2 separate regions of the Homo sapiens genome follow, and region 1 is linked to region 2. The links come from fine-mapping of genetic effects on gene expression. A gene starts in region 2. The other region holds a variant in brackets. All regions are shown on one strand. Distances are from middle to middle.

Region 1 (12,461 bases), 380 kb before region 2:
TATGAACCCATCCTGCAACTACTGAATGCCAGTGTTAGAAAGAAAACTTTCAATGACAGCAGAAACTGATGCACCATCCTAGTTATCATACAGCAGCATACCAAAGCAGAGATAAAGCAAGTTTCTGATGGTGATGTTTAAGTGTTTTCATTGCTAAACAATATATTCAAATTATCTACTTAACATTTTCACCTGGGTTTCTAATATGTATCTCAAACTCAGTATGTCCAAACTGGAACTTTTGATGTTTTCTCTACAAGCATATCCTTCTTCTATTCTTTAATATCACATGGAATGGCAGCATTACACACCAATTGGTTGAACATTCAAGAGTCATCTTTGAATTATCTGTTCTCTTCACTCTCAGAAGGCCAGCCATTTGCAAATCCTCTTCTGCTTCCAAAATGCATCTGATTTTGTTTTACTTTCTTTGTTGTTACTATCATATACGGAAAGTCCCCATGGTCTCACCTAGACCTGGAAATAGTCTCTTCTGATTCTATTGAGCACTCTACAAATTGGTCTTCAGCCAATAGCCAAAGCATTTTTTATAACCTATGTGTCACTGCTATGCTTAACTTCTCAAACTTGGAATGAAATTTTGACTTTTTATTGGGCTTTACATAGCCTGGAAATTCTGGTCTTCGTTTACTCTCTTATCTCCTTTCCCATGAAGTAATTTTACATTTACTACTTTTCTAGTCACACTGACATTTCTTAATCTTTAAATTTGGGAAGCTGTTTGCCACCACCAGGCCTTTGCACATGCTGTTTGCTAAGCTTGGAATGCCTTTCCTCAAAATGGCTCTTTGGATAGCTAATTTTTCAGTTATCTACTCAAAAGCTTATTCCTCAAATGGCTGTACTACAATGTCTAACCCAAAATAGGCCCTCCCTACTGCAGTTCACTATGCCATTTTAACACTCATAATGTTTTCAGTTTTTGGAACTATTTTACTTATTTATTTTTCAATAATTTCAGAAGCCCTGGCCTTAGAATGTAAGAGTCATGCAACCAGAGACCTTGCTTATATTATTCACCAATCTATCTTAGAACTTTGGAAGAATACAGAGTCTAATTTAGAAAAGCTTCTGAAAATGTAATTGAAAAGAATGTTTAGTATCAATTTATCTTTAAGAAAAGAAAATTTAACTCTTCTTTTTCAGTCAAAAGAATGTATCTCTATCAGGGGTCTTTGGACACCAGTGTGAATCTCATTAGAGCCAAAAATTTACCAGAACATAAATTTAGAACAACTCATAATAAATATTTATGAAATTATAATTTTGGCCATATTATTATCACTCACCATTATCCAGAACACAAATTTCAAAATTAGCACTCAATGATTTCATTTGAAATAATCATAAGAAAATTTTGTTATTAGTAATATTGATAGATATAAAATATTTACATACGACAAGAACCAACACTCCCATATTCTATACATAAAATGAAAAGCTTTCTTTTTTAAAAATTCTATTCTACTTTTATATATCAGATGGCTTCAAAATAATTACTAATTTTAGAAGCAATGAGATGAATAGATATGTAGGATATGAAAATAGATATGTAGGATATGAAAAAAATATTAATAGAATTGTGCTCACCTTGGTAGATAACTATGGTATTGAACTACATTGTAATACGTGTCCTAAATAAAAGACTAAAATAGAAATTATGCAAACATTTTGTTTAATCTATTATAGAATCACTAAAGAAAAATTAGCTATTTTTACTTAGTAAGTGGAATATTTTAATGATCTGAAAGGGAGGATTTTTAAAACTGAATATGCTGTTCTTCATAAAATAAGAAAATATGTTTATATGGAAATATTTTAATTGAAATATCAAAATTCCATAGAATATTTACATCAGTTGGTACACAGCTTCTTTCAAATAAATTTTATTACCCTATCAAGAAAGCTTTTGAGAATTATAATCTAACTTTATTTCTTTTTATTGTTTTTAATTAGTTATATATTTTATTTCATGGGTTAGCCAGTTTGAAACATTAAGTATTGTGGGTTGAAGTAGAACATGACCTGATTTTAAATATTCCCAGCTAAAGTTAAATAAAATATGCATACTTTAGATAAAGTTTGAATATTATGTTTGTATTGCTTTTTACCTAACTTATTGAGTTTGCTGGGTTTTTTTAATAAACTTTCAAAACAAGGGAAAATATCCTATGATGTAGGATAGTACAGAAAAATGTTGGAAATACAGCCCTTAAGTTTAGTTTTGTCTGGTATTGATACATGACATGGAATAAGTCAATTTATTCATTAGCATTCCAATTTTTATATTAGAAACATTCATAATAAAAATAATACACTTAAAGATGCTAAGTTGATGAAAAAGTAACATGGGGGTACTTATATTGCAATTTTTATTTTAAATGTTCCCTTAGGTACTGTTTCTACTTTAATTAAAACTATTTCATAAATCTAAAGAAGAAGCTTCCCTAGCGATACCTGTAAACTCCACATTTTCTTATGGCTTCACTTATTTTAAAGTGCTGAAAGAGCCAAAATTTTATTTTTTACTCTATAGTTAGTTTTTAATTAAAATATTCAATGCCACCTACTAAAAAAACCCACACAATCAAATACAGTAAAAAGAAGTATACTGGAGATAATATAGACTTCAACAAATTAACTATAATTATTCTTGATTAATAGCTAACACATCACACTATAGCTAGCATGGCAAAAGGTAAGTGGTACTATAACCATCTGGAAATTAACAAATTTATTCAATAAATTACATAAAGTAACATTAATGTTTTATTATACATAGCAGAAAGCCTACTCATGATTCCCCAAAGACATTTGTGATGGTTAAAAATCTAAACAGTTTAGAAACTGACAGTAAAAACGCATACAAATGTTCATCCCTGTAGGCATCTCAAAGCAATTTGGATGATTTTATTTTGTGTAAGTTAGATTATATAACCCAAAACATACATTCCCATCACTGCATGAAACAAAGCTTATTATACTGGTGCTTTGAGACACTAATCTAGCACCTGGAAAATGGAAAAGTAAGAAAAGATTTGTCTCTGGTACCCTTGGCCTTCATTTGGAATGATCCTTTCACAGTACCTTGATAACAGCTGCCCTGAAATTGTTGCATCTTACTTCCCTAGTTTACAATCCACTCATTTTCCCTCCTATCTTTTATATTGTTCTGCATTTGATGCAGAACAATAAATGCTGGCACATGAATCAGATACAAATTTTCCATGCTAATATTTTCACAAACTACTTATTAACTAAAAGGAAACTACTATTTAAAACATATTTAAAATTGACATATTTCTTCATAAATTTGAAAAGTGGCTTAAATGTTGAAAAAGATCTGAGGTTATGGTTGTATGTAAGATGCAGATGTCATTTGCTAATTAGCTTAAGTTTCAGAACTATGAATCACTTTAAAGATATCAGCTATTTCTAAGAAAGTTTGATCTATTGGGAACAAAGAAAGGAAGACAGAGATTTAGAGAAGGTTCTGCTACTTTTGCTTCTGGGTGTTCATTGGAAACAGCCCTGGGAATTTTCCGTTTAAACTGCAGGAGGAAAAATAAGCAGCCAGAGAGTTAGCAGAAGATATAGGCAAGGGTAATTTTTTTTCTTTTAATATGATATGCAAATTAATTAGAAGCAATTAACCTAGCAGTAGGACTGAAGACTTTAGGGCCTTGTTTTATTTTTATTTATTTATTTTTTTTTTATTATACTCTAAGTTTTAGGGTACATGTGCACATTGTGCAGGTTAGTTACATATGTATACATGTGCCATGCTGGTGCGCTGCACCCACTAATGTGTCATCTAGCATTAGGTATATCTCCCAATGCTATCCTCTCCCCCCTCCCCCGACCCCACCACAGTCCCCAGAGTGTGATATTCCCCTTCCTGTGTCCATGTGATCTCATTGTTCAATTCCCACCTATGAGTGAGAATATGCGGTGTTTGGTTTTTTGTTCTTGCGATAGTTTACTGAGAATGATGGTTTCCAATTTCATCCATGTCCCTACAAAGGATATGAACTCATCATTTTTTATGGCTGCATAGTATTCCATGGTGTATATGTGCCACATTTTCTTAATCCAGTCTATCATTGTTGGACATCTGGGTTGGTTCCAAGTCTTTGCTATTGTGAATAGTGTAGGGCCTTGTTTTAATGTCAAGGTTTATGTGGAACTGAGGAGCTGTGGGTCCTTAGAACTATATACCATAAACCTGAGGTTACTTCACTGGCAACAAAACACAATTAACTATAGACACAAATATAGTAATACTTCTCCTTTATATTTGTTGCTTATTTAAAATTTTTGCTTTTAAGCTATGGTATTCATGTATTTAATAAGACATACTCTATTTTACAAAAAATATTAAGTTCATATTATGCATTTGGATTTTCTTTAAAAAAGGTAGCCAAAAAAGCAAAGGGGTTGTCTCAAAAGATATTGCAGAAGCTGTGCATGTTTCTACACAGCACCAGCCAAAACTCAGTTAAAAAATTGGAGAAAAGCATAACTCTCTACCCTGCATCGCAAATCAGCTGAGGTTTAGGAAATGTTAAATGAAATGTCTCCATCTGCTATATCAAGAAGAATAACAATACCTGTAATTGCCAACACCAATAATACCCTTGAAAAATAGTCTTTACATATCATCTCTATTTCTTTTCTATACAATTATCTTCTCAATGTGATCTGACTTTAAGTAGCTGCACTCTATTGAGATAAGTCAGATTACTAATCTCACAAACCCCCTGGAGATTTTTTGTCATCCTTCTTAGCTTCTCAGAGCAGCTGGAACATACCCACCTCTTGTCTTTTCTGTGGGGCCATAACCCTGTTATCTCTTTCCACTCCTTCTCAGATCTTTTAAGGTCCCATATTTCTCTGATCTATTGTGTTGTTTGGAATTGCATGCACATCACTCTTGTGTTTTGGAAGGTATGCAGTCCCTGAAAATTGTAGCTACACATTATAGGGTTCTGCTATATAGGAAAAGAACATCAGCTTTAGTATCAAATAGACTTTACTAGGGTTTCAGAGGAATTATTGTCCACATGAATACTAGATTCATCCAAGAGTTTAATTATAATTCAGAGTAGATATGTGAGTCAGGAAGTTAAGCTCCTATGAGGAACTAGGAGCCTGGCCTGAATAACTGAGTAAAGGAAAGGCATTATGAGGCTGAGAGAAAACAAAAACAAATAAACAAAATGGCCTGATGTTTTCATGTGTTTTTGAATTGATTAGTAAAAGGTATACATGGAATTCACTGTTCACATATTTCAAATAGACTTTTGTCATTAAACTGTTTTGATTTACAGATGGTTTAGGTACCCATATATTTTTGATACTTGATTGCTATAACTCTAGAATTTATATCCCTAGAATTATATGCATATTTTAAGGTAGAAGCATTTTTATTTAATGTTGTTGGGATACAAATCATAGGTTAATAAAAAAAAAGTTAAAGCAGGATATCAAAAATTCTGTAAAGGAATAAATACATAACTTAAATATTGTATTTTATCTTAAGATGTGTAGATGCATAGCCCATTCACTAATCTTATGATATAGACTCAAGAACTTTTCTTTAAACATCTAATAATTGTAATTATTTCATTATGTCTTCTTTGTACATAATTCATGATACATAGTTTCTTATCATTCCAAGTTGAAAAAACTTGAGTAAAAATTAGAGACACCAGTTAAGCAATCTTAGTTTGAAAACTCT[TA/T]ATTTGTCTATTGTTAATTCTATTACTTTTCTATTATTTTCTACTTTTAATTATTTTATATTAATGGCTTCCTATTTTTAAAGATATCTTGTCCACACCTAATTCAGGCAAATTTTTAGTAACTCATCCTTAAGTTTTCTCTAAGCATTCAAATTGGTTTTTGTACAAAAAAAGTTCATTGTTTATTTATTGACATTTCATCAAGTTACATATATACACACTAAAAGTATCCCAATAAGCCTAAGAAGTTTGTACTAAATACAATTGATTCTAAATAAGCATGAATATGAACTGCTCGGAACAAAATTATTCAGACAATATATGTGGTAGTCTGCTAAACAAAATAGCTTATTGCACTATAGAAACAGTTCAGTATATTTTATCAAAGAAATGAAACGTATTTGTTAGTCCAGTTGGTTGATTAAATAGAGGATTGATGAAAAGCACCTTGTATTTTGTCTGATTATTTCCACAACTGAAATTGTTGGTTTCTACAATAATTACTAATATATAAATGTGTAATGAAGCAGTAGGTATTAAAAAGCAGTTGAATAGGCCTATTACTACTGCTTATTTCCAATTCTTCCCTGTATCATGAAAATGAAAAGGCTGGTCAAATGAACCATATCATTAAAATATTACATATTTACTTTATATTCAAATGCTCCCTTTTGTTTGACAAAAATCTAGGTGTAACTGTTGAGGAAAAGCCAGACACATTTGTATTGTCTCTTTCTAAGCTGCATATTATATTGAGCCATTATTTAAGCTATTTAATAGTATGTATGGTATAACCTATGGTCTGGAAATTTGTTTTGCAAAGCTATATATATATTATCATTTAATTAATCTGAAAATACACAAAAGTATTTTCCGCTTTTATAGGTGACTTACATATGTAAATATAAAAGGAGTTATGCTTTATTATATAATATTGATTACTGATTATAGTTTTGTTAAAGGCTAACTTATAAGTAAGAGTTAATTTGCATCATATTTTGACTGTTTACATACACATTTTTTAAATGTTTCCAGAAAGAAAAAAAAAATTCAAATGTTTCAATCACATTCCCTACAAATATTTTACATTTGAAGTTTTCCTTCATTTTACTGGTAAAGCATCCAGCTAGAAAAATAAAAAGTAAAAAAAAAAAGCAAAACAAAACTTTACCATTCACAGTGATAGAATTGAGATTAGAATTCAGGTTACCTGATGCCTTTTAAGTTTGCATTACAGTAACAGAACATTTTTCTCTCTTTCATAGTACTTTCTATTTAACTAATATTGTCATTGCTGTGTCAAGTTATTTATCCAAAGGTATCCTCACTTCATGGATATTTATTTAGAAACTGTATTGATTTAAAACAGATACTACATTTTATACTAAAAATAGCATGCACAATCTTTAATATCTACTTTAATTACTGCATTTTCAGATTTATATTTAATTTGCTAATGAAATAGTGACAAGATTCATGTCAAGCATGCTACTTATACACTTGATTTCCTTTGAAAATTAAAACTCTGACCTGAAAATAAGCACACTGTTCAGGGATACCATCTTGTTAGTTTAGTTGTTAGTTACCCGCTGTTCTTAATAAATCAGTCTGCAAACTACTGATCCATGTTACTGCATTTTTACCTCTCTATTTGTTGGAAACATGTGCCTACAAACCAAACATAACTCTATTTAGTTTGTCAAATTGAAGATATCCTATCTACTTCAGGTGTAAGTTATGTTTACAGATATTTAAAGCAAAATAAATATCAGTAAATGTAATATCAGAATTATGATTTTCAAATCATAATTCACAATGAATTCAAATATTTTTAATATCAGCAAATAGATGATAGTAATAGGTGATACAGTATTATTAAGTTTTATAATACAATAAAATTCCTTTAATATATTAAAAGGACTATAATAAATAGTAAGGTCTAAGCAATGAATTTTAGGAAAACCTTTTAGTATATTAATAATAGTCCTTTAATAATATATTAAAGGACTCGCCTAAAATTCATTGCTTAAACTATACTATTTATTATAGTTACAATGACAGAAACTTGCCTAAAATTCATTGCTTAAACTATACTATTTATTATAGTTACAATGACAGAAGCTTATTATAATCAGTATATTTTAAAATCATTTCAGTGGTTTTACATGAACCATTTGCTTTGTGTTTATTCTCAAACATTGTTGAGCACCTTAGGTAGTAACCTTAAGAAATCCTTGAATTCACAGATTAAATTAAAACTGTATTTATGAATACAATTAGTAAGTACCCATTTGGCCCCATTTTGTCCATTTCATTAAAATATATAGAGAGAGATATTGTCTTTTCTATGTTTAATATATAACTTATTTAACATGTTCACAGAGCAAGCAAATCATGAGGCAATAAGAAAAATAAATAAATTATGCAAAACTTGGGGTTTTTTAAAAGGACTTTTTAAATTAATTCATTTATTTAAGATCTACTTCACTCTCCAAATGTATTTGACACTCTTAACAAAAACGAAAATAATACAGCAGGATAAAACTAAGCTATTGAGGAAATTAGTAAAGGATAATTAATAGGAGAATAAGATAAGGCCACCCAGTGGTGAGCTATAGCCAACAGGTAGCTTGAGAGAGCTGATTCTGTTCATTTCTTTGTAACTCCATGTTCAGTGATAGCAGGTTAGTAGCTTGGTTGATCATAAAATTAAACATGCCACAAATAACAAATTACGGCTTTTTCTTTTCTTTTCTTTTATTTATTTTGGAAGACAGGGCTTAGCAGTACATCACTGAAGCCATTCTGTCTCTGAAAATATCTCCTAGAAGATATCCTGAATCAACTCCATTATATTGACAAAAGATTGCTGAATATGACAAAAATATGTGTCACAGATTAGCACCAAGATAAATTTAGCTTGAATACTTTTAAAGAAAAACAATTGATACTTTTAATAAGTATGCATGGAACAATTAAATTATGTGGTGTTCTGTTGTATCTACAAAAATAGTGAAAATATACAGCTATATAGTTGACAATATTGTTGGTAATCTGGAGTTATAAATGAGCTAATTAGGTATAAATGTATATCAAATACAGTGCTTTGGGCTTGCTTGGATTGTACTAACCTATATTATTTTGCAATAAATAAGTAACTGAATAAATTGTTTGTTGATTTCAGCCTTAGGTTGTGACAAAAAAATACAAAACAAAATATTAGTTTAGAGAAGACGTACCTTGCTATTTTAAGTTCTAAGTACATGAAAGTTATAAGTACATGAAAAAGCTGTTTCAGATGATTAAAGTCCAAATAAGAGGCAAGGCATGGGGAATAAAACAGCCTCATGTTTTTGTTTGTTTGTTTGTTTTTCAGACGGAGTCTCGCTCTGTCGCCCAGGATGGAGTGCAGTGGCGCGATCTCGGTTCACTGCCAGCTCCGCCTCCTGGGTTCACGCCATTCTCCTGCCTCAGCCTCCCGAGTAGCTGGGACTACAGGTGCCCACCACCACGCCTGGCTAATTTTTTTTGTATTTTTAGTAGAGACAGGGTTTCACCATGTTAGCCAAGATGGTCTCGATCTCCTGACTTCGTGATCCGCCCGCCTCGTGCTCCCGAAGTGCTGGGATTACAGGCGTGAGCCACCGTGCCTGGCAAAAACAGCCTCATGTTTTAAAAAATTATCTGGTCTTTATCATATGTCATTCCTTCAGACCCTCCATTATGATGTCAGTGAAGGTTATGGGCATCACAGCATTAGTAGCTGAAGTTATTAATTAGGTTCACAAAACTTCAAGTCAATAGTTTTTATATCACATGTAGAATGTACATGATATATTAGTATTGGTATCTTTTAATGAAGGTGTATGTTCTACAGTATACAAATACATTACAGTTATATTTTATATTATTTATTATATTGCTCCATATTATATACCATATTGGGTATGTAAATATGAATGCTTTATACAGTGATAAATAAACAAATGGCAATGCATGCTCTGCTCAATTTTTTTTTTTCTGAGAGGTGTGCACAATAAAAAAGTTTGGAAACCCTTATTCTTGCTCTTGTCTCAAGGTCAAAGACCCAAGAAAAAGAAAAAAAAAAAAAAGAAAGAAAAAGAAAGGACAAAAAAGCGAGACAAATTGTTTGGTATATTGTGCTATAGATTAGTAGGTTAATTATTAATGATAAAATAGGTCTAAATTTGTACAGTATATTGTTCTGAGGACTTTAGAACTCTAACGTAGAGCACAAAGAGAAAAAGTGTTTTTGAATATTAGGTGGAGGCTTCATCTGTAGTTTGTTATGGAGTATGAAGAGGAGAGGGTGAGGTATGGAAGTAGAGGACTTCAGTTAAAAAAAAAGAAAGAGAAGAAAACAAATGATGAGAATGATTAGATCGACTACCTCTAAATGATGAATAATTCTAAAGATTTGTTTCACCAATCAGTAAGTGAAAATTTTAGTTAGCATAAGAGAATTCTTTTCAGTGGCTTTTAATTTCTGCCTTTTAAATTAACTGTGTCCCAGATTCCAGCTCTCAATACATCAGAGAAAAATATACAGTATACCTCATTTGGGCTAGTATTCCTGCTATAAATCTGAAAAAACAAGCTTCTCAAATATCAATCATGCATATCATAAAGGGGGATAAATCAGAATCTGGTCTCATTTATGACTCTAATTTACAAAGCAAATTTATAGTATAAGAAAAAGATCTGTTAGCAAAAGTTCTCTAACATCATGGACTATCTCTAGAGAAAGTAGAGCTAGAAAAAAAACAGATATCATTGGTTAAAATTCTCATATAGGATGGGACTAAGAAAATATTGCTTTGTAAGTCTAATATGCTATTCCATAATACATTAGATCAGGAGTAGGGTGGGAATGATGCCATTTTGTTTATTTCTAAAGGAAGAAAACAGCCTAATTTGGATTAAGTAATATTAAGAACTAAAACCTGAAGAATCATTTTTAGAGCCTCCTGGTAATTCAAGATTGATATTTGCTCCCTTTTGAAATGACAAGTGAAGAAAAAGAGAATTCCAATATTTTTTGTCTTCTTTTTCTCTGAAAATTTCCTTGGGAAAACAAGGGCTATGGAAAATGGTGAAATGGAAATTTTAAATTCCCTTTTATACTTACATTCTACTAAGATCCAGACTTCCTCTTTTCTTTGTAAATTGTCCAGTCTCAGTTCTTTATAGCAATGTGAGAATGGACTAATACAGTACATACTACAGTGCAAGAATCGAAGTTAGTGTAAGCAAAAAAATTACTGATTCCATTACAAACTTCTTAGACATATGAAATGTCTTCAGACTATTCATAATTATCAATCCTACTGAGAGCAGACTAGTACGGAATGGACTGAAATTGCAGCATAGATATTTAGGATCCATTCATGAATGCCTCAGTCCTTAAGCTTTGTGAAGTTCTAAAATTTATATAGTGTAAAGCTTGAAATATTAGGTTGGTGCAAAAATTATTACAATTTTGCCATTGAACACAATAGCAAAAACTGCAATAACTTTTGTACCAACTTAATATGTCAAGTATGCCTTAATTGAATGCATTCTTAGCACAGGTTCAGACAAATTGGACACTAAAATATTTATAAGTTGACGGAAAATTTTACAGCAGAAAGTAACACTCAAAAATAGTGACTTATTTTGTTTTTTCCAATATATTAAAAATACTTCTCATATGTTTTTTATTTCTTATAAGTTCAGCACCAAGAAAAGAGTGCTAGCAGTGGTTAATGCATGGTGTGCTTAGGGTATGAATGAGTTAATATCGCTCTTTAACTTGAAGATAATAAATGGTCTGAGCAACTCTCCCATAGCATTATCCTAAAATCACCAGGGCAACATTCTGCTTCAGTGGTTTAAATGTGCCCTGGTGGTTTGAAACATAATTGCACTGCTCTGGACACCTAATTGACTACAAGGGACTGACTTAGGTACTTTGAATAAAATTTCATTACTTTAATTATTGTTCAGTGAGGTGTTCCAATGTTTTAAAACAAACTGTTCATGTGAAATTTTGTTTCTGTGGAAAAATGCTGTATAAAAAGAGTTCTGTATAAAATACCAACTTTTGAGTGAAGTTAATAATTTCATGTGCATTTTTAGTATAATAATCTTTAGTCATAAAGCATATTTAGTGAATACTACTGTGAATTCTCGATGACAAACAGCCAAATGTCAAAAAGCAAAATATTTGGACAATTGAAAATAAGGAAAATAATAACAGCTAAAACGTACTGGGACCATAATGAGCTTTTCATCATGTAACCTTATATTCCAATGAGATGGACATTAATATGCTAATTTTAGAGACTCCTGCACAAGAGAAATGTTGCTGTGATTGGTCAGATCCAGAGCCATTTATTGGAACATTTCTCTATGATGGGCAGAGTAACTATGATTTAAAGTCTCCAAACCAGTTTTCATATCTTTCCTATCTATTCTTTTGTGGTAAACACACCTAGCCCTTAGGACTGTGCCAACAATCATCTTTGTGTACCTGGTTAGAAATGTCAACTGGCAACCTTCTCCACAACAGCAATTTTACACTACGGAAGTACAAATTAAGAGGTCCTATTAGATGACCAGAACTAAGCCTTCTGTACCAGAAAAGCTCCCTATTATACCTAAAAGCAACCTGGTCTTTCTCAATTGTTAATAAATAGC
Region 2 (12,461 bases):
CTACTTTTTTTGTTTATCAGCTTTCACTTATGATAGAGTTTTACTGTACTTAGAATCATGCACAGATGACATTTGGTGTCTATTTGTTATTTCACTGTTTTGTAGACACCAAATTTTGTGTTTAGGGAAAAGACGCGTATACTCCAAATTAATTCAGCTACCCTACAAATAGAAATGCTAATTAATATCATGAAGGGTAATAACTACTGGAACGAAGCCTTTGCTCCTGGAGTACTTAATTTATTGAGTAATTCTACTCTTTTTCTCCTTGAAGGATCTCAAGGGAGCTGGCATCAGGTTTTCAAGATGCCGAAACCTTCTCCTTAATTATTTCTGCTCACATACTCTTCCAATGAGGGCGTGATGCAGCACCCGCCTCCTCCCCAACCAGATGATTCCGGAAAGTACGGTGCTGCAAAAGGACATTTCAGAGCGCTTTCAACAAGCTAACTGTCCAGTGAAGTTCAGCTCCGAATTCTGGTAACCGTTCAAGCCCTGTCAGTCCGGTAAATTGGGTTAACTTAGCAACTCGGTGGTGCAAAGCCTCCCCAAAGACAAGACCGCATTCAGGGAGAAGAGAACCAGCCTCATGCCTGAGCCGATCTTTCTTCCTTTGGTTGTCCTCCTTCATTATTATTCTGCAATGCGCAGCAATCCCTGTGCGTGCCCCTGTGTCAGCCCCTTAGCTGGTCACTCCAGCGGGGCTGGGAGAAGACCACTTTGGCTACTCAGATGGCACTATGCTGTTTAATTTCTTCTGCTCTCTCCCTCAGAGTCTAACTAAGCCCTTGCAGCACTTGAGCCGGGGGCTGCCCTCCTGCTGGCCTTTCCGTCGTCGTTGAACGGATCTGGGGGACGGGGACGTTGCAGAGGAGCCACAATCCCCACTCGTTGTTTCCCCAATGTGCTTTCCGAACTCCCCGAGTGCGTCTTAGATAAGTTATTTGAGTGAGGACAGCGCTGCGGTCCGCCTGGAGAAAGGGAGCTTCCTCCGCACTTCTACTTCATCGTGACAGCAGTGGTCGCAGCGCCACTGGCCATCTGGAGTCCTGGGAACATTAAAGCGCTGTTACCCGCCAGGCGTTTCCGCCTAGGACACACTCACACCCACCCTCGGAGACTCCTAAAGGTTTCTCCGTGTCAATTCATGTGTCCTCCTCCCAGCAGCACACACGCACACACGCACATCAACAGCCAAGTCAGCCACCCAGTTTCAACTTCGGGTTGTCCATGAAAATTCAGGGAGGCTGATCTTCTTGAAGAAATTAATGAGTATTCCCACAGGAAATAGATGTAAGGGAGGGGCGCCTGTCCAAACTACAGCAGGAGGGGGCCCTGACTCAAATACAAAGGTTACCTTTCAGTGGGTTTCTCAGTCTTGCTAGTGTTGGGGGAAGGGTTTTGATAATGGTTTTGTCTAGGTGGGTTTTTGTTTGCTGTTATTATTTTGAAAAGACATTGATTTCCCTTCCCTCAGCCCCCTTTGTAAAGCTCTCTCAAGCTGAGACAGATATTTTCCTGATGTGTTGGGAAAGACTGTCGCCTTATGGGCGAGGACTGTGGGTGTCAGTCCCCGGGACACACGCGGGGCTGAAAGCTCCGGACATGGCCACCTGGGCGGGCGTCTGTAAAAGGTGCTAATGAGTGCCTCTGGCAGCTCTTCCCCCTCATAAGACACCCGCGCCCCTCTCCAGTAGCAACTAACTGCGGGAGAGGATGCGATTTCCACTTTTCCAAAAGACCTCTGTGGCAGGAGTAGTATCTCCTTGGAGTCTCAGAGCACGCAGAAACGTGGATCCTTCGCGAAGTCGCTCTGGCGAGAATCCCTGGAAAGACGCTCTGGCGTGGGGTGCGCGACGCCGCACCCGGTCTCCCACCTGCTGCCTACCCAGAGATCTGTGCCTTCGCGGTACCTTCGCTGCACGGTGTGTGTTCCCCTGGGATCCACTGACAAGCAGCGTGGGAAAACATCCCATGGATGTCTCTTTACATGGGCGGGACGCTTAAGCACGACTTGGAGATTCACAGTTTCTATCTGGGTGAGACCTAAACAGACACGCTGCAGCTGGAGGCATTTCAGAAACCTCTGCCTGTGTGTGTGTGTGCGTGTGTACCTGTGTGGGGGGTGCGGGGGAGGGGAGTTCAGTTTGAAATAGGCATGGATCAAGTCTAGGCAGCACCTGCCCTGTCCCACGCCTCAGTTTGGTGCTCTCCACAGCCTTTTATTTCACATGACAGTGGAAATGAAATGCCAAGGAAAGGTTGTTTTCCTTTTCAGCCCCACCCGAGTGGTTCAGGCCTACCTAAGACCACTTTATCTTACACTCCGAGGCGTTTCCTCCCACTAAGCCTCTTTGTCATTGCTGTTGAACGCAAAGGTGAGATGGTGGAGGGATGAAAACTGTAGGCAGATGGTGTAATTCTCGTGGCTAGAGCTGTTCACGTGGAAAACTGCCTGCCTCGGACTTCCTGGACCCTCACGCTAGTCTAGATTAGAACCTGCAAAATCCTTACAACGGCTCCCCAGTCTGAGGTTTTTCATGGACCTCACATTCCAGAAGAAAGTGTAGAAGACAAAAGCGAGCATAGACATTGGGGCAAACAATGTTTAAGGCATTGCATCAATCTTGGCTTTAGGAAAGCCTTGAGACAGGTGAAATTAAAATAAAATGAGGAAAGGGAGAGTAAAAAGCAACTATCAAAATTGGCATCATTCGGAGATTGACAGCAGGTCTAAAACATAAAACCTATGCAAATTTCTCAGAATTTGGGGACAGTATTCCAAGTCGTAAAATGTAGGAGATGCCTTCCAAGTGCCCGATGAGTGACAATAACTTTATTGACATTGAAAAAAAATGTTTTTTACGTATAGTCTGTAGAATATTGATTTTGCACAGGATCAAAGAAGGCTATGACATACTCTTCCTTCTCAATATCTCCAAAGCTAAACCGATTATATCAGTCCAAAGTAAATTAACGCGCCTTTCCTTTCTATCGGCGCATCTCATTCGGAAAATACGGTAGGTGCGGGCAGCCGGGGCTCTAATTGCAGGCGGCGCGGATCAGCGTTAGTCAGGCTGTAATGCTCGCCCCGCTTCGGAGACTTCCCTCCCCCTCATCTGCCCCCGAATGTGTTTTGGCTCAACAGGTATCACATGAAAACTCGCACTTAAACCCTGGTCATCTTCTCACAGGAGCCACCCTTACATTTTTCTGCCAGGGCTGCTGCTGGCTATTCGCGCCTCCCCCACGCGAAGCGCGCGTCTAGCAGGCAGCCCCAGGGCCATCCATTAACCACCAACTCCCAGTGGCAGGCGAACTAAGCATAAATGTGTGGCTCCTCACCCGTCGAGCCAGCGACAAAGAAACCTTGTAAGCAACCTGAGCCGTGCTTTGTACATTTGGCAGTGTAGTTGTGCCACTTAGGACAAGCTTTTCGGCTCAGAGCTGCTCTGAGGCCCCAGAGAGAAAAGAAAAATCAAGCTTCAAGGAGCAGGTTGGGATTACAAGGCAGTTGCTGCCACAGAGACCGGGGCGACTGACTTCCTGGCATTTTGGGATGTAAATTAAAATTCTAGACATGCCACCCATCATTGGTTATAGTAGAGGGAAAGGTAACCTCTCCAGCTCCCTCCTCCCAAAACATGAATTATCATTTCCACTGAATGCAAATGAGCTGCCTTCCGTGGGGGGACAGCCAGCTGCAAGCTGGACAATAAACTGTTTCATAGAGACGCGGCCCGATTGCAGTTCAGAGAGGCACTCCTTTACAAAGGAAGAAGCGTCCAGTTTGTGTTGACAGCCCTGGCGCGCCTGGGCCAAAACAGCACCCCCTTTCCCGCGATCCCCCGCCCCCCCGCGACACACAGACACCCGGGATTTGAAACTAGCTTCACTGAAAGCGGCATCCATAGCGTCTATTCGAGCTGCCATGAGTATGGAGAGGTGATTGTTCAAAAAATGATGGCATGAGTCATAAACACCTCCTGAGTATTCTTTGCAGCAATTAATGGGCAGCAGGGTGCCGGAGAAGTTGTGGAAGAGAGCTATGGATCTATTTTCTCCCTAAGGACAGCTCTTTTTCCCATGATCCTGACTGTCCCTTGCCTTCCTGCTTGGGAATACATTTTTACATCCCACCTACCCCCTCCCCTATCTGTGCATGTGACACTCACTCTACCTGTCTGAACGCTGAGACTTGCTGGGGATTTTCTTTTGGTCGTCAGCTAATGACTTTCCTCCTACCTCATTCATCCCTTAAGGTGGTTCTTTACACTTCATGGCATTTCAGACCCTTCGAAAGCCTCATTTTTTGCCAAACCTCTACCACAGGTCCTAGGGAAGCTCCCCTACATTTAACATTGCATAGAAGCCCAATTTACATACATATGCATGCAGACATTCATGTTGATGTGGCAGTGCTTGGAAGATCCCTGTGCCCTAATGCATTTAAAATCAACACATTCCTAGCACGTCGATAACTTTCTTCCCTGAAAGGGTTAAAAAGCATTTAGACCAGCGTCTTTAATATATATATTCCACCCAAAGCCTCAAGCCCTAGTGATCTGACAAGAAATCAAGGTAATCCTCACCACTAAGAAAAGTCTTGCAGAGGAATTCTGCCTGGATATCCACTAGTTAGAGGCTATACTAACCAACTCACGTATTCGTTTGAGCATACTGCAAGAATATTTATTGAGCACAAGCTCAATCACCGCATTGAACGCCAAATCTGGCAAGCAAAATGCATTTCCTATCTGAGGGGGGGAGAACGAGCTGTGAATCAACTCCTTTAGTATTATCAGATTATTTTATCGGTGCAAATTGCAAAGTAAGCTGCCAGCCTCTCTCCATCTACAAGTCAGCCCACCTCCATCCAAAGCGGAGGGGACCCCCAAAGCAGACCTACCTTTCACACAAGACACCGTCAATAAAAAGACGAGGTTCCAAAACGTAAATCCACTTTTAATCCCCATTTTCTTCATCAGGATGAAGTCTAGGCGGCCACATTTAGCGCATCTTCGCTTGCCAGGCTCCCAGGGTTTGGATTCCTTTGCTCGGCTTTCCCCTTTGCGGATCCCTTTCATATTATTCGCGAGCTCCTAATTCCTGCTCCTCAGCCCGGCGCAGTGGAGTTGTTGCTGTTGTTGGTGCGCGGTCACAGCTCGGAGTGAATGGTGTTTCTGGGATACCACAGCAACCTTGACGAGGACTCAACCATCTCTCCAACGGGGGCACAAAGTCTCCGCTACTCTGGATTCTGTCTTTTCTTGTGCGTTTTTTCCCCTCCACCAAAATCTACCCCAATTCTGGCTCGTTATAGCAACCACCAGAAACCACTAGTGAGCCTCTTAAAGCCCACCTCTGCTCTCTGATAAACTCCACACAATATTTGAAATTAAGGGGCTTGCTTTTTTTCCCCGAATAGATCAATTCTGCCTGTAAAAGCAGCCCAAGAAATAATGTTAGTGAGCTCTCCGTTGCAGGCTGCGAATACAGAAGCATGTCAAAGGAATATTTTAATCGGAGGATCTGTGTTGCTTTTGGGGAAACCGTGACGATAATGAATCGGGCTCCATCGATGCCCACGTCGTTATAATGGGACATGTGTTACTACTGTAGTTGCAGTATATTTCAGGCAGGCTTCTCCCATTTATTATCCTGTGATTTAATTGAAAAAGGAAATCACAGAGAATTTTCTCAATAAATTCTGCCTTCACACGGAAAAGAATGTATTTGAACACATGTATTTACATACTCAAATAACTACGTGTAAACCCTTCACCGGGTTTTTATGATTCGGGAAACGGATTTCATCCGTGGCCTGGGCGGGGGTGGGGTGGGGAGGGAAGTCAATGTCGTTTCCTCAAATAGTTCTCCCTTTCATCCTCCCAACCCCCTTTTCAGTTTGTGTGTGCCGCAGTTAAACTACTTTATCTGTGGTAGTTATCTAGAACAAACCCATTTGTCTTAATTCTGAATCGGTACCAAATATGTAAATAGGAGGTTTCTTTCAAAACGAAAAATGTATGTATCTATACATCTGGATCTGCTTCCCCCATGCACCACGCAAGGGTTAAGATTGCACAAGGGAAGAGTTCTTGCGCCATCTACTGGCCGTCTCCGAGCCGCCCGTTCTTCCTTCGCATGTATAAGGGACCCTGTTTTTGCCATCCCTTGGTGTCAGGGGAGCTGTGTCCCCGGGACCAGTATGTCGTGCTCCTTGATTTTTTTCGACCACGGTCCTGGCCCAAATCTTTCAATGAACAAGTTCCTTAGATTAGGCAACTGATTGGTGATCTGACCTTTTCGGGAATCTGGTCCCCTCTCAGCAGTGGGGAGTGCCACAGCGCTAGTTCTGAAACAGGATATTGCTGTTGCGTGTGGCTCCATTTAACTGCCTCAGGCTATCATGGGCGTGAGCGTCTATCAACAAGGCTTAGTCTAGAGGACTGCCCAACTTGAGTTTGCAGCTCCCTGCACTGTGCACAAATAATGGGTTTGGTCCCGTGCACCACAGCATTACCCTGGCCAGCTTTGTCCCTTGGCTCGCGTTGGAGCTGCCCGCTCAGCAGAGGAAGGCGTTAGAATCTGGAAGGAGTTCCGCTCTGGGAAGTGGGCACACTGCGAGTGTCCATAGGTTTGAGTGGCGAGTGAGTTCAATCTGCAGGCGTAGGAAGGCTTCTGATCTCTCGGGGTACGTGGCATTGTGTGTGGGCCTGTGATTCTCCCAGTTCGTGTGTGTGTGTGTGTGTGTGTGTGTGTGTCTGCGCGCGCGAGAGCATAAACGCGCTGTAGTGAGAGGTAAGTGTGCGTGTTTATGAAAGATACAAAGAGTGATTTGCCATGCGTAGGTGTTTTCCCAAGTGTATTTTTGCAGTACATATGCGTGTGCACGCCTGTGTGTGTTTGTGTGTTAGAGAGGGATTTCTGTCCTGGGTAGGGAGCTGTAGCAAAAGGTAAAAGCTGTAGACGCCCAGCTGACCTCATTAAATTCAGAGAGATACTTTAAGAGCCCTCAGGCAGAACATTGTCCCTTCTTTTCAGTGCTCTCTTTCATTGTCTGCATATGCAGGTTTCGAAGGGGAGTGGGCAACAAGGTAGGGACTAGACAGAGACTGGGAGGATCAACATGGAAAACGACATTAGCCTGCTAAGCCACCTTGGCAGCTGCTCTGGCATTGATTTCAGTCAAGATGTCAGCGTGTGGTGTTGCTGCTGTTGCCTTTGCTGGGCTGGACAACCAGTTAGAGATGTAAACAGGCCCTTGGACTTAATGAGGATGCTCAGCAAAAATCCTCCTTACCAAGTGTGCAGAGGTTAGTCACCTCAACTGAATTTACTTCTTATTAAAAGAAACAAAAATATTGGGTTTTATGCAATCTATTTGAACACATAACACATGGCTATACATCCAGACAGGAGGACTTCATGCCAAAAAAGCAAACAAACAAACCCCCCCGCAAAAAACCCTTTCTCAAAAGACAGGGTATTTTAACAGTAATTATTGTGCACAAAGTAAGTAAATTTTGATTAAAAGACCATAAAGATTACTAGTAAGATACCAATTTCTGATATTTATTTTCAAACACATGGCTAATCCTGTAATCCAATTATCTTTCCCTAAATGAATCCTGCCTATCATTTCATGTGAGATTGTTAAAAGATTTATCTGGAATCTCATAATATATTGAACAATACTATAATATCTAGTTTCTACAGCTCACAATAAATCACAAACCATTTTCACCTGTGTCTTCCAGCTTCTGAGACAGGATGGAAAATAATATTTCACAGACGGAAAAAGTTAAGGCATGAGGAGCTAAAGAGGTTTATCCAAAGTCACTATCAGGAACTTTGGTGTTTAGTCCAATGTGTTTAGGGCTAGATCTCACTAGTCTTTCTTGATGAACAGTATCCTCTTTAAGGAAAGATTTCCAAAGGTATTCCAGAAACACAAAATTTTCAGCCACAATCCTGGGTGAGAATCCTTTAGTTTCTCCAGAAGGGGTGGGGGCGGGGGAGGGAACATAGTGTCTACATTTGGGAGAAAGAAATTATCTCTTGTTGCTAATCTGTAGGAAAGCAACACAGCTATACATTCATTTGTGTGAGACTATTAGAAAGAGATTATGGAAAAATAGCTAACATAATAGCAAACTTCAGGTGCTTATTGTACATTAGGCATTGTGCTATGTTTACATAAGATATATTATTCAATCCTCACTACTTTCTGAGACAAGCTCTACAGCTTTCTGAGACAAGCATAACAACTATCCTAGTTTTACAGATGAAAAAAAAATTGATACACATAGAAGTTAACTGTCTTGCCTTGCCTGAAGTAACACATGTAAGAAGTATGAACCTATGGCACCTGATTTCAGAGTTAATATGCTTCCCTAATGTCCTATATTTTATGCTAGCTCCTACAGATGCTTGTTTTGAAATAGTCTAGTAACAAAAAGAATGAATCATTTTTACAGTACACATGATACATAATTATAGAAAAGCAATAATTTATAGTTTATAAGTGATAAAATTTTAGAATATATATGTACACATATAAATAAAAAACTTTTGTCCTTTTTATACTTATCAGTTACGAAAATTCCTCCTCTTTTTAAAAATTTTTATTTACTTCTTGCAGCCTATTGATCTTCCTACATATAGGTCGTGGTAAAACGTGACTTGGCAAGGATCATCAAGACACAATGATTAAGTACCCTTAAGAGCTTTTAAAAAGAGGTTAAATCAGAAATGCACAAGCTCTTTAAACTAGAAGTACTAGATTTCCATTCCTTTCCAGTTCCTTCCCCAAATACCTATGGAATACAATTAACTTTGATCTTAAAACAGGGCTGAATTGCACTAAAAAAGATAAAATAAGCCCCTCTCCAAAAATTGCCCAGTATTAGACTAGCCCCTTCAACATGTATTTACTATGTTTTGTCACCACAGGAGCAATATCAAAGATAAATGAACAAAATAATCAAAACAAAATGAGTACACTGAGAAAACACAACACAAAAATGTGGGAAGTGCGTTACCTTTAACTTTGGAAAGAAGCATATACTTTTGACAGCTATAAACTTAGTGTTTTTTTTTAATTTATATAATGGATATAAAGGTTTACATGGGGATTCTTGCTCAAGTGAAGTAATTTTTTTATAGAAATGTTCCTGCCTATTAAAACTAAATGTTCATTGACTGTAGACACACACACAGACACACAGACACACACACACACACACACACACACATTCTCACATGTATTTAATTAAAAGGCTGAAAATCAAATCTGTGGGTCTGTGGGAAAAAACTAGTTAGAGTAAGATAAAATGTTAATGATTACAAATAACCAAGCAGACATTTTCCTGCTCATTTGCAGTTTTTACATATAATTCACTGCCAGGAGAGTAGGGGGAAAAGAGGAATTCATTTTTCTCATTTTTCAATAAATGCTCATTCTTGGATCTGTCATGTCTGATCTCTCCAACTCCTGCGAAATAAAATATTTGAATTTAAATGTTGAATCTAGAATAATGAGGGGATTCTAATTTAAGTATATGCATTACCTTGATTTATAAATGTCCTTATTTGTTGAGGAAAAAGGAAAGTAAGAGACCTAGTATTCATGTTAAAGTAATTTTCTTTAAAACAGCAATATTTAAGAAGATAAATTATCAAGCCGATAGAAGGATCTGTCCTTCCTGTTGTAAATCAGGAACCATTGTAGAGAGGTGGAGACAGGCCTGTTGGAAGAGTCCTAAGTGTGCTTTCCTAGGAATTCATTTTTCTTATGTCCTGACTCCTCTTGCAATTTCATTAATACTGAAGCTTAACAGGCATTTCAATGTTTTTAAGCTTATAACAACATTAAGAACATCAGACTGAAGTTTATATGTCAAATAAAGGTAGTAACGTTGTATTACAAGAGAACAGAAAAGCCTTAAAACTGGACACAGAATCTATTGCTCTATCCATACAGACGAACTGTATTAACTGACTACAAAAAACACTTATTTTTATGTGAGCCACAAATATAATAATTTTGCCCACTTTCAAATTTTCTCAACTGCTTCATTCTTAAACATGGAAAATTTAAAATTACATATATTAAATAGTTTAAGATGAACCATATATGAGCTCTGTTTCCTGAAAGGAGGGAATCATGGTAAATAATTGGGGGGCATTTGGGTAATTACCCTGAAAGAGAGCAGATAAGAAGAATAGAGAGATTCTTTAAAGATTTCTCTGTTTGTCTTGAGTGTGTTTCACTCTCTTGCTCACCTGGGACTGATATTAAGTAACCTGTCTTTGCATAGAAGAACAAAAATAAAGAGTTAAGCAAAAGGTAGCTTTGCTAAATAATCAAGATAATTCGGGTCTCTGTGTTTCATCAGTAATAAAGTTGTGTCATTGACATTATCTGAATAAACCTCAATTCCTGGTATAGCAGATCTTTTTTTCATCATTCTTTAAACTCACATACACTGTATAGTTATGTAGTATCAGTTTCAAATGTCCTTAAGAATACATAAATAGCCAAGTGCAGTGGCTCACGCCTGTAATCCCAATACATTGGGAGGCCGAGGCAGGCAGATCACCTGAGGTCAGGAATTCAAGACTAGCCTGGCCAACACGGTGAAACCCCATCTATACTAAAAATACGAAAATTACCCGGTGTGGTGGCACACACTTGAAATCCCAGCTACTCTGGAGGCTGAGGCAGGAGAATCGCTTGAACCTGGAGGCAGATGTGGTGGTGAGCCGAGATCTGAGCAACAGAGTGAGATCCCGTCTCAAAACAAAACAAAACAAAACAAACCCCATGAATACTTAGAGAATATAAATCAAAAATGTTGATTTTATAAGATATAAAATATATCAAGATTATTATCAAAATGTAGTATATATTTGATTTCATATCCAGAGGTTATTCATATCCATCCAATTAGTTCATTATTATCTTTTAACAATTTGGTACTGTCTTTATTATCTACATATTCTCTGCTAATCTTTAAAATTAATGAAAAATTTTTTAGATAAATGCATATTTTTAAATATGCACAATAAAACCATTAATACTTTTTATTCTGTAGATTTTTAGTCCATTCTAAATTAGGTAGTATGTGTAGGACCTTCTTTCTATTTTGTTTCATTTATCCACTTAAGAATCAGTTTTTTGTAATTTTGTTAACTGAGAAATCTAAATATCTGCAATAAACAATTTACAACTGAAAGTCAATTCTAGAAACATGCAAGCTTAGTTCTTAAATTATATTTGATCATAATCCCAGAGCCCCAACATAGCAAAACACAGCCCACAGGTAGAAGGCAAGAACATTTCACCTGTGCTTGCAATCTCCTTTCACTCATAGTAGACTGCTTTGCTGGTGATAAAGCAGAATTCACTAACTTTTTGTAACTTTTAATTGTGATGTTAATTTTCCTAAATGTTTACAAACTCTTGAATGAAAGGAACCATTGAAAATAATTTGGTTGGATGCTTCACAAATTTAAAGATTTTTATTCACATACATGTGTATTGTACTTGGTTAAAAGCACTGACTATTCATATTTATTACTGTATAATTTGATCTAATTTTTAAGCTTCCCAAATGATCACTGTTATTTCATTTTTTAAAATTTATCTTAAAATTAATAAATGTTGAAATATTTCCTAGGATAAGAACACAGGAAGCCAAACAAAATAAGCATCCTTTTTTCAGATAGGACGATAACAGTGACGTTGACTTAAAATGATCATTTTGGCCACCAAAGGAAAGAAAATCAATGCAGCTGATTTTAGTTTGGCTACACATAATCCAATTTGGATTGCAAGTACAAATATGTGTCCCATCTGGACAGGGATCAATTTCATCTTTACTATTTGTGTAGCAGGTATTATTTTCATCTGAGTATTCTTTCATTTATTTAAGAAATCATTTTGAGCTCCTGTTGCAAGGAAACAAAAACAAGAAATACATGTTACTCTACCATCAAGAAACTTTCAATGTAATAGAAAGCATAGAATATATTCTCAAGTAACAAGAGTGAATGTCAGTAAAGTATAACCACTTTTTGAGACATGCTTGTAAAATACCAAGATGGTGGAAAATTATTTATAGCTAGGGAATTGGAGAAAACTACATGGAAATGATAAACATTTGAGTCATTGTAGAATCATCTAAGAATGCTTAACAGGAAAAATCTTGAAGAAAAGGTTGTTTTCTAGAAATATTGTGAATAAAATTAGGAGAGCTATGTACACATTTAAGATTTAGTCAATTGGGCGGTTATACTTTTAAAAAAGAATGATAGATGAGGCTAGAAAGCTAAGAGCAGCCAGGGAGATGTGGAGATTGGGAAACAATGACAGACCTTGCCAATCCCCTTCCCTTCCCTTCCCTTCCCTTCCCTTCCCTTCCCTTCCCTTCCCTTCCCTTCCCTCCCCTCCC

Which allele goes with the higher level. Positions count from the first base shown, and alleles are read on the strand shown. Sizes are in standard deviations (SD) of each study's normalised expression.
With allele T in place of TA in region 1, the expression in testis of the gene that starts at base 5,172 in region 2 is lower (small effect, 0.29 SD a copy in GTEx).

What was found. PIP is the estimated chance that this variant, and not a neighbour inherited with it, causes the effect. A credible set is the group of variants that fine-mapping cannot tell apart.
Region 1: its variant is the best candidate, but not a certain one, in a credible set for the expression of CSMD3 in testis (GTEx, PIP 0.64).

What each region holds. Positions count from the first base shown.
Region 1 is chr8:113,056,270-113,068,730 of GRCh38, forward strand. The region is part of intron 5 of CSMD3 (CUB and Sushi multiple domains 3); the gene reads right to left. Among named protein-coding and RNA genes, the nearest start is that of CSMD3, 370 kb to the right of the region's middle. The variant TA/T (reference allele first, on the strand shown) is at 5,762.
Region 2 is chr8:113,431,768-113,444,228 of GRCh38, forward strand. It overlaps CSMD3 (CUB and Sushi multiple domains 3), which reads right to left and starts at 5,172. Exons shown (of 71, transcript NM_198123.2): 1 at 4,910-5,172. The coding sequence starts at 5,087. It overlaps LOC105375709 (a long non-coding RNA gene), which reads left to right and starts at 420. Exons shown (of 2, transcript XR_928544.3): 1 at 420-659; 2 at 774-1,363. RefSeq lists enhancers at 313-1,512, 819-1,322, 3,756-4,266, 6,044-6,093, 6,106-6,606 and 1 more.